Regions from separate parts of the Homo sapiens genome. Here region 2 is linked to region 1. The links come from fine-mapping of genetic effects on gene expression. A gene starts in region 1. The other region holds a variant in brackets. All regions are shown on one strand. Distances are between the middles of the regions.

Region 1 (5,383 bases):
TGGCGATGTCACGAATTCCGCCGCTCGCGCACCACCCGGGACTCCTGGCGCATCTTAGTACCCACAATGCCAAAGAAAAGTTCCCTGGTTTCTTTGCAGAGGGATAGGGAGTGAGGGTGGGAAGGTGCCACGAACTGAGCTTGTAGGCATTTTCCAAACGAAAGAGTTGGCCAGATCCGGGTGATGGCAAACCCTTCTCTTAATTAACTCTGATCACTTGTTCGGTTTGGTGACATATATATATGACATATATTCTTTTCAGAGGATAAAGGCCGTTCTGTTTCTGTTTATTCCTTGTAGGGTTAACATTTCACAGGTATGTGGCCTGACATTTTAATTGCCCAAATAAAGCATCTCGGATGCTGAGAAGCAGAAATAGACTTCATCTGATTGTCATGATGCAATTAGAATCAATTTTCCTCAACTTTACCCTCTCTCGCTGGTTTTAGCTAACTCTCCAGCCAACATCCTGCCACACACCCAGTCATGGTGAGAGGGGAAAGACCTCTGCCCACTGATGGACAGGAGGAGGCAGCCGCCCAGCCTCCCCTGTGCACACCCTCTGTACACACATGTAAGCGCACATGTATCAGATGCACATTTGTCAATGTACACAGACAAAGACTTCACCGACTATGCTTCTAGGTCATAGAACAGTTGAGTACGGACTTCATTGTTCCTCAAGTTCCTTTTAAGCATTCATATAGTCATTAAAACGCACCCAGAGATTCTGCCCCAAATGGGAAATAATACTAGTACAGGTCACAAGAACCAAACCCAAGCCATATTCTACCTCAAGAAGTCACTGCAAAAAGAACAACTTCATAGCCTATTGCCATTCTGCTCCATGTGCTAAAATAATTGAGACAGTTGTGTCTTTGAATTCCAGGGTGTCTGGTTTTAAACATCAAACATGTAGAATTGCTCTCAGAACACACTATATTCCAACGCAGTAAACTTGTTGTTTATGACCAGTTAGTGAATTATCATTATTCCACATTTATACAAGAAAATTGTGTCTCCTTTGTACACACTTTGCACCAAGAAAAAACCTCATGCCGGTAAACCAACCAGGTTTGTGAACAATTAAAATATTTTACACAAAAGACGCTGAGCTCCAGGAAAGAAATGAACACATATGAAGAGTAAATTGATGACCACAGAAAACATCCTTGGTAGCTGAAAAAAAAATTGACAGGGTAAAGATATTTTAAAAATAAACCATACATATAATTGACATGCATAGATCACATTTTACATTCAATTCTCTTTACACACATAGGCAGAATATGAGGTAAGGACTAAAGATCTGGGCAGATAGGGGCTGGTTTTTAGGAAAGGAAAAATCTTCTTTAAGCTTCATTCCCGAAACCTCAGCCCTCACTCTTTCTCCGATGAAATCACGTATTTCACTAAAGCTGCAGGTTCTCGGTTTATTTGAAAGTTGTTAAAAAAAAAAAAAAAAGCCCAGCAAACCTATAGTGGACACTGAACTATCATAAACCTGGTGTGTAATAAGATTGCCACAGAATGAAGCCAAGCTGAGAATTTCAGGTTAATTAGAGACACAATATAACTTTCTCCTAAAGAGGATAAGAAGGATGGAAAAGAAATCATTACACAGGAGAAGGTTTTTGGTAGTTGTTGTTGTTTTCCCTTCCAACCTCTATGATTCAGGAATTGCTAATGTTACAAATGTCAGCAGATTCGGGACAAGCTCAGCTGAGATGTGATGAGACTGGGGTTGAGATAGGAAATCTAATGGGCATTCCCATCTCAATAGAGGATGAAAATAATTGATTATAGGGAAATCTTCATCTCACCTCCTGAATGAGACTTCCATAGCAGATTACCTTTTACAAACATGGGAAGGAACAATATCGAGGAGGAAGAGCTTCCCCAGTCCACTTAGAGATTTTTGGAATTTGAAGTATGCGTGATGGCCTTAGATTAAAATGGAATAATTTCCCAACCATATCTTAACAAATTGGAGCCTGCTAGGCAAATGATCACAGGGCTGCCATAAAGTCAGGGGTGTTTCACTCTGTATTTTAGGACTCATTCAGTTATGAAATGCTGTTACAAGGGAGAAAAAAAATCACCGTATGAATTATACTTAATTTTAATGCATAGAAGAAGAGACAAGACTACAGACTGAGAAGAAAAAAGGGCAAAAATATTTTTAAATGTCTTCTCCAGAGATGCTCACTTGCTGTGCGTCTAAGGTTAAAAAGCTCTGAGAAGATAAAATCAATATATTATTGTTGTTTTTTAAAAATCCAACTCAGTCTTTTTTTGCAGATGTAAATTTATTATAATGAGAAGAATGGCAAGCTTTAATTTGCCTAGAGAAAGTTGGGACAACATTTGCCCTAATCTAAAAAAGAAAAGAAAGAAACTCAACACCCAGGAATATAATTTTCTTGCAGAAAGTGGCCTGATGGGCTGTATTTCTTTACAGATTGAATCACAATATGAATACAGACCCCAGCAAATGCCGAGTTTAACTCTGAACTCAGTAGAAACCAGTTCCGTCCTCCAGGATTCATTGAATTCCTCCTTTCCCTCAATCTAGTCCGTGTGTGTTTTTCTCTTCCACCACACTGGAGCTCCATGAATAGGGAAAGGGGCTTCCATTGTGTCCCTCTGAACTTCCAAGTCAATGCAATTTTTAACCACTGGCTTGTGGTACTTTGAAAATCACCAGGGGCTGTCAGAGTTAGGTCCTCTGAAAAATTTACAGTGCTAAATCAGAGCATATGCTGGGAGGGAAAAAATTGCTTAAGATTAGAGCAAGTACAGTATCTGTCTGCCCCCTAGTGTAAGAGTCCTCGCTGCCTAAAATTCAACTTTAAAAGAAAAGGAGCTCTTAAAGGGAAACGACTTTGGACTCACGTAGGCATAGGAGAACGAAACTTCTGTACATTTTAATCTGAATAATTCTTCAGGATTTAAAATTAATTGGCTCTGGCTTGGTTGGACCGTACTCGGATCTCGCCACCTCTGCGTTTCCCGAGTCACTGGCGAAGAGGTGATTTTTTTTTTTTTTTGAACTGGGTTTATGTGCGTCCCCCTCACCCCCTCCTCTCTTTTTCTTTCTCTCTGTCTCTGTCGTCTCTCTCGCTGGCTTTTTAAAAATGAGGAACCGCTCCTTGAATGTTCTGGACAGAGCACAGAATTGCTTCTTAAGTCAGCCCGGCGCGGTTGCAATAGACAGCAAAAAGGTAAACGTTTGCCTGAAATCCGCACGCCAGCTCCACCGCCCCGCCCGATGGTGAGTACCCTTCTCGTCGCGATTCTCCTCCTAGCTTAACCGAGCGCTCGCCTACCCGAACCGTGGCCGAGGGCGCCGGGCTAGGCTTTTCTCCCTCCCTGCCTGCCTGGCTGTCAGTTGCACAAGGTTGCAAAATGAAGCGCAGAGGCAAAGCGAACAGTAAATTCTGATACTTAGTGCGAGCCTAGCAGCTCCTTTGCTAGAAAACCGAGTCATCTGCTGCTTGCAAAACCACGCTTTATAGGACTGGTTTTTAGTTTGCTCTGTGGAAGGAAATGAGTTTGAGGAGACAGGACGAGGAGATAGGAGGCTCCGCAGTCTTAACGCTTCGGTTTAATCATATTTTGGCAGCTTTGCAATTGTATTTTCCCCCCTCCCCCTCCACCATCTCTCCTACCACACACATGTAATAAAATATGGCAATGCATTGAATTGACTCTGATCCCCCCTTCCCCGAACCCCTTAAACCACAGTCCTCGGCATTTCATACACGTTAGCAAACCGATATTTTGAAAAGCCCCAAGTCATCCCCAACCCCACACAGCACAAGCAGAAAAGTGAGAAAGGAAAGAGAGAGAGAAAAAATACTGTAAGTAAACATACCAAAACCATATTTGCCTTGTTCAAGGTCCCAAACCGCTTGCATCTTCCTCCTAAACTGGAATAACTCTCCTTTAGTTTGGCGGGTGAAATAAATGCTTTGTTGGCCCCCTGAAAAGATGTGTCTTTGATAATTAAAGAGAATCTCCTCCTCGGTGTTTATCTAAGCGATTGTGCAAACTGATAAAAAGTAGGCACTAGCCTGCAGGGAAAAAGAGGAAAGGTGAAGGGAGAGATCTTCCACCTCAAGGAAGTGCTTCCCCATGTATTAGGCTCTCTCAGCCTTGGAAAACCCTGCACACTAACTTTAGAGAGACAAGGTTTCAGGGAGCTTTGTACATAGCTGCTGAGGAATGCAAGCCTCGCCTTTAAGAAAAAAAACCCCAAACCGTAGGTAGGAGATGTCTGGAGTGATCCTTGTCTCTCATCTCATTCCTTAGAAGGAAGAGTGCGTTGTTACACCTTGTTTGGGGCTGGAAAGACGAGACTTTAAAAACACCCGTCCAATTGAAAAAAATCTCCCAACTTAATGAGTTTAGTCGGAGGCTGGAGCAAACGGCTCAGCCTCAGCAGAAAACCGCCAACAACTATAGGCGATATTGCAAAGCAAGACGACCCAAGGCACAGCCAAATTCCACTGTTTGGGGTCGAGAGAGATGGAGGCTAATCCTAAAGCAAGTTGGGAAAAAACAGAGGTGGAAGAGGAGGGGGAAAAAGCATCAGCCTCGCAGACTGGCAGACAGGCTTCCCTCGTCCTGGATCAAAGATAGAACTTGAGACAAGAGGGCAACATTTTTCCTAGGAATCCTTTGGAATCCTCATTTTCTACTTTTAACTCAAGTCTCCCCAAGTGATTTTTCCCCCTCTCCCCTGTGGATTTCTGCCTCCCCCCTTTCCGGTCCTTATTCTAGAACTTTCCTGAGGAGGAAATCTATTTCTTTTGGGGGGAGGGGTTCCCCATTCCATGCCTTCAGATAATGAATGCTTCATTCACCCCCTCCCTTTCTCTACTCCCCAAAACGAATAAAGGAAGCAAGAATACGGTAACTAGTGAAAATTGAATATAAACTATGCTGCCTCTCACAGTTTAATACTGTCTTAACTAATGGATTTTTGTTTTGTTTTGTTTTAAGAGAAGAATAATGGGGAAACACGGATCTTTTATTTTAGGAAACTGTTATGGTAAGATGTATGTCAGACTTGACAAATGGAACTAACGCTCTTCGGCTGCTTCTTGTCCTTGTCTTAAACAGGAATTAAGTTAAACACAGTGCTGAATGTTAATTACATGTTTACTGGCTAATGAAAATTACAAATGGTTTTGCCACCTCAAACAATGATGAAAACTCTGAAGACACTGTAATTATATACTTTGAGCAAAATAACTCAGAATATTGATCATAAGAAGTGTAAATCTTTTTTAACTATTCATTAATACCATAAATATGGGCTACAGAAGTTTTTCCTTGCGGTTTGTCTCATCAGTTATACTGAGTGGATGGATGGTGA
Region 2 (5,383 bases), 36 kb after region 1:
GGAATAGCAGCCCCCGTTAGGCAGGGCTCCTTCACAGGTTGCCATTATTAATAAATGTGATAGATTACCCCCTGCGCCTCCCAACGCCACCCCCCACCCCCACCATGTTAGGTTGCATTCTGAATTAGATTTAGATGGATACCCTGAATTCCGTTGCATATGACTCCAGGCTGACTTCACATTTTTTCTTTTTTTCTTTTTTTTTTTTTTGAGACAGTGTCTCACTCTGTCGCTCAGGGTAAAGTGCAGTGGTGAGATCATAGCTCACTGCAGATTCTATCTCCTGAGGCTCAAGCAATCCTTCCACCTCAGCCTCCTGTGTAACTGGAACTAGCACCACCATCCCCATCTAATATTTGTATCTGTTGTAGAGACAGGGTTTTGCCATGTCTCTACATGCAGGGGGGTGAGCTCACTGCAACCTCCACCTCCCGGGTTGAAGCGATTCTCATGCCTCAACCTCCCGAGTAGCTGGGATTACAGGTGCCCACCATCACATCCACCTAAGTTGTGTATTTTTAGTAGATACAGGGTTTCACCACAGTGGCCAGGCTTGTCTCCAACTCTTGACCTCAAGTGATCTACGTGTCTTGGCCTCCCAAAGTGCTGGGATTACAGGGGTGAGCCACCACACCCAGCCTAGTGTGCCTTTCTATGGCTGTTGACTTTGAACAAGTTAAAGATCTAAGTGTGAGCTTAATTGTTTTCTCCAGCTTCACAAAAAGATAAGACTCTAAGTGCTAGGCTTCGAGTGAATCTGTAGTGTGCACATTTCTACAACCTCAGTGTGGCTCCAGTGGGAATTGAGCCGAATCTAAGCACTAAATAACCCTAATGATACCAAGTAGGAGCTCATCAGGGAGCTGTTGAAGAGTTTGTCAGAGCTTATTAAAATACAATACATTCACATAATCAAAAAAGGTACATCAGTCCATCTGTCTATACATTCCTTTCTGATATTAAATTTGTCCAGGGACTTTTCAAAATTACATCACCTATCCCTACCCCTTTCTTTGTGAATAAAAATGTGGCAAGAATGGAGAGCAAATCAGAATAATGCACGTTGGTGAAAGTCCTATAATTGAAATCATTATTGCTTAAGACACCATTGCTTTAATCAGCCCTATCATAAATCAATGCTTTTCACAAGTGAAGGTTTAAAATAAAATGCTGTTAAACAAATTGGGCCTCTTAAAAGGCATGATGCAATTGGGAAGCTACGGAAAATGGATAAAAAAGCGCTTTCTGAATGGATTCACTGGTTCCAGCATTTTGTCTTCCACTTAATTTAAAAAAATATATTACCTGGTCCTTTCTTAGAAATTACATATTGGAGGTCTATAATGGCCAAGCCTTTAACCCATTAAAAAAATTTTCTCCCAGGGAACAGTTAATATTTGACGTTTAATTGCTTTTTCTTGTTGGAGAGGAAAATGGTTTTTTTCTTCTTTTCTTGATTGACTTTTCAAAAATCACCTTGTGAGCTATAAAAATGGAGATGATTTTCAAAAACTGCGGTACACATCTGTGTGTATGCAAGCATATATGTGTTCATGTATAAATAAAATCTCCCATGTACCAGAAGCTGGTGCTTCCCTCACAATAACTCTGCAAGGCAGGTGTGACTATCTCCACGTACTGAATTAGGTGGCAGAGGTCTAGAGAGGTGAAATGATTGCCTGGTGTCACTCAGGTAGTAAGTGGAGCAGGGGGTGGCTTGACCACAGAGCCAAGGAAAAAGGTCATGCCAGTGGTCCCCATCTTGGAGTGCAAATCCTCTCAACCTCTTTAGCAAGCGCCAGATTCAGGAATATAGCAGGTAATCCACACCACCAGCAAAAGTCAAAAGAGCCCAACTCTCATCTTTTCTAAGCATTTTAATGTGAGTCCTTCATGGTAATTAAGGTAGGAGAAGCCGTTGAATCAGCCCTATAAATCATGTCCACCTGGAAGAGAGTTCTTATTCAGGGATTTGTGTGAATAAGCAGGGAGGCTTTGGGAGGCTGAGGCGGGTGGATCACGAGGTCAAGAGATCGAGACCATCCTGGCCAACATGGTGAAACCCCATCTCTACTAAAAATACAAAAAATTAGCCGGGCGTGGTGGTGGTGCGCGCCTGTAGTCCCAGCTACTCGGGAGGCTCAGGCAGAATTGCCTGCACCCAAGACGCGGAGGTTGCAGTGAGCTGAGATCATGCCACTGAACTCCAGCTTGGGCAACAGAGGGAAACTCCATCTCAAAAAAACAAAAAACAAAAACCAGAAAATAAAAAAGTAAAAAAAAACAAAAAACAGGGAGGTCACTGTTTTCTTATTAGAACAGTGCTCATACAGACATCAGATGAATTTTGGGGCCTCCCCAGGAACTGTTTTAAAAGAAAGAGGGGGCCAGCCAGACATTGGTGTGGAGAAGGTGAGGAAAAGCCTCCATTTGGTTGCCTAGAATTAGAATATTTCCAAGTCAACACTGTCAATCTCCCCACTCTGACATGCAGTAAATCCAGTACCCACAACTAAAGTGTTTTCTTGCTTTCTTTTTCTTTTCTTCTTCTTCTTCTTTTTTTTTTTTTTTTTTTTTTAGACAGAGGGAGTCTTGCTCTGTCATCCAGGCTGGAGCGCAGTGGTGCAATCTCGGCTCATTGCAACCTTCCGCCTCCCCAGTTAAAGCAATTCTCCTGCCTCATCCTCCCAAGTAGCTGGGGTTACAGGCACCCGACACCACGCCTGGCTAATGTTTTGTTTTTTTAGTAGGGACGGGGTTTCACCATGTTGGCTGGGCTGATCTTGAACTCCTGACCTCGTGATCTGCCTGCCCTGGCCTCCCAAAGTGCTGGGATTCCAGGTGTGAGCCATCGTGCCCAGGGTTTTGCTTTCTTTTCTTTTGTTCCTTCTCTTCCCACAAAACCAGGTATTATTTAAGTCTCTTGAAAAGCTGCACAAACCAACTGTTCCTCCCAGATTATCCCTTTCAGAGCTCAGGTGATAAGCCA[C/T]CTTGGGTTACACCTCCCATGACTTGTGGTCAGATGCGGGCTGTGTCACTCTGCCTTATCCTACCTTACAAGAAAATATCTGTGTGTTGGCCTCACCAGGTCCCAGTTCCTCTGGGAATCGTCCTGTATGCAACATCTTCACAAGAGTGGCAGGCAGTTGAATCTCTGGCCTTCGTGGGACCACTGGACATCTGGCAGAGAACCAGGAAACCACGGTTCCCTTCTGTGAGTCCCTCAGCCGGAAAACTACAAGGTGTGTGACTGTAGGATGAGGCTTTTTGAAAGATGAAGTACGACACTTTGAGAAAGTGTTTGGAAAGAAACTGGCTGATGTCGAATGGAAATCTGAACATTCACAGATTTCTTTTCCTAGATATAGAAACGCAAAAGCTTACATGTACACATTTAAAAAAAATTAAATTATCTTTTCTTTCTTGCCTTCCTTTTTTTCCCCGCTTTTTTTGTTTTTTTTGGTCTTTTTCTTTTATTCCTGGTTAATAGTAATTCCCATTTTTAACCAAGGAGTGGTAAAACTGACACTGTCATATTGCTGATAGGATATATTAGCAAAATCCTTTTGGAAATTCATTTGCAGTGTGCATCAAGGGCCCATAAAAATGTATGAGAACTATGTGATAATAAGGAAACAGGATATGCACTCTTAATGCTTATAAATACATAGGCAAAATATACGTAGTCATACTAATAGGTAATATTTATTGTCTACTTAATATATGACAAGCACAATGCCACATGTTTTACAGGCATTGTCTCATTTATTTTGTACACAGACTTTGTGTGGTGGATATTATTATATCTCCATTTTATAGATTAAAAAAGAGAGGCCTGGGGAGACTAATTGGTTTATTTGGAGTCTAGTGTGAGATTTCAACCCATCCTAATTGATTACAGAGCTTACACTATTAATTTATAATACCTTATCATTCCTCATAATATGTGGTTATAAGTAAAAAACAAACATTAACAACCAAAAAAAAAAAAAAAAACCCACACCAGCAAACAAAAATCAGAGAAGCTCTTCTCTTATAATAACCACATGAGAAAATAGGAAAGCTTAGACTGAGAAAACGGCCAAACCTAAAAAAGCGTATTTGCAACCAGTTAATAAAATGACAGGTAGCCTTCAACACTTAAATGTTTTAAGGTTTTTTTTTCTCTGGATGGGGATTAGACCCTATATGAATGATTTTTGACCAAAAGAATCTAATTGATATTATTCTGCTAATTTAAGGAGTTCAAGGGAACAAGTCTTACATGTAGTTGCAAAGGACTTTGAAAGGACTTTGTCCAGACTTAGGTGAGAATTTTCTTTTGGACTGGGTCCTAGGTTAGTGTTCCTTAACTTTCTTAACTTATATTGTGTGAGAACATAGCTGAAGATATTAATGGAATCTATGGTTTCTCTTTCTCTCTCTCTCCAGAAAAACACATATATTAACATTATTCAACATTTTGCTGTATATATTTTAATTTTATCTTTTTTTCAGGAAACTTTGAAAATTTTAGGTTTATTGCTGGTTTAAGATTTAAACTAAAATTTCCCTTTCTGTTTTGGCTTCCAGAATGTTCTTTATACCTCAGAGAGAGGACTTTCCTTTTTCTAATAATTTTTTTTTTTTTTTTTTGAGACAGAGTCTCGCTCTGTCACCCAGGCTGGAGTGTAGTGGCACGATCTTGGCTTACTGCAACCTCTGCCTCCCAGGATCAAGCCATTCTCCTTCCTCAGCCTCCAGAGTATCTGGGACTACAGGCACACGCCATCATGCCCAGCTAATTTTTGTATTTTTAGTAGAGATGGAGATTTCACTATGCTGGCTAGGCTGGTCATCTTGAATTCCTGACCTCAAGTGGTCCACCTGCCTGGGCCTCCCAAAGTGCTAGGATTCCCAGCATGAGCCACCGCACCTGGCCTGTATCTCTAATAATTTAAATACTGATGCAGTTTCTTCAGAGTGTTGTCTACACCTGGAAAACTGAGGTCGGTAAAGTAAGCAAGTATAATGCATAATTTAGTTTCAATGTTTTCATTAATATGATACCATACCATTGTGAACACTTGTATTTGGTTGCATGGCTAACAACTACCTTTTGGATTTTTCATGTTAGAATGAAAAAAATGCATGGCATACATCACCAAGAATCAAAGGTTGTGCCTGGCAGTGTAATTGACTATGTAATAAAGAGAGAAGCTTTGCTAGGTGAGTGGACAGCATAATGAGAGGCTTTGTTCACATCTGCAGAAATGCATTTTCGTTAAACACCTGTGTTAAGCACAAGCACATAAGGCACAGTGATAGATGGATGTAAAACATGGGTAGATGATGTCCTTGTATGAGATTCTACAAAGACTCCGATGTGTTGAGGTTTGGAAGC

The links. PIP is the estimated chance that this variant, and not a neighbour inherited with it, causes the effect.
Region 2: its variant is the best candidate, but not a certain one, in a credible set for the expression of NR2F2-AS1 in nasal epithelium (TOPMed, PIP 0.86).

Annotation. Positions count from the first base shown.
Region 1 is chr15:96,324,847-96,330,229 of GRCh38, reverse strand. It overlaps NR2F2-AS1 (NR2F2 antisense RNA 1), which reads left to right and starts at 3,112. Exons shown (of 5, transcript NR_125738.1): 1 at 3,112-3,274. It also overlaps a transcript of NR2F2 not described here.
Region 2 is chr15:96,288,489-96,293,871 of GRCh38, reverse strand. NR2F2-AS1 (NR2F2 antisense RNA 1) reads left to right here. Exons shown (of 5, transcript NR_125738.1): 2 at 3,089-3,242. Among named protein-coding and RNA genes, the nearest start is that of NR2F2-AS1, 36 kb to the left of the region's middle. The variant C/T (reference allele first, on the strand shown) is at 2,990.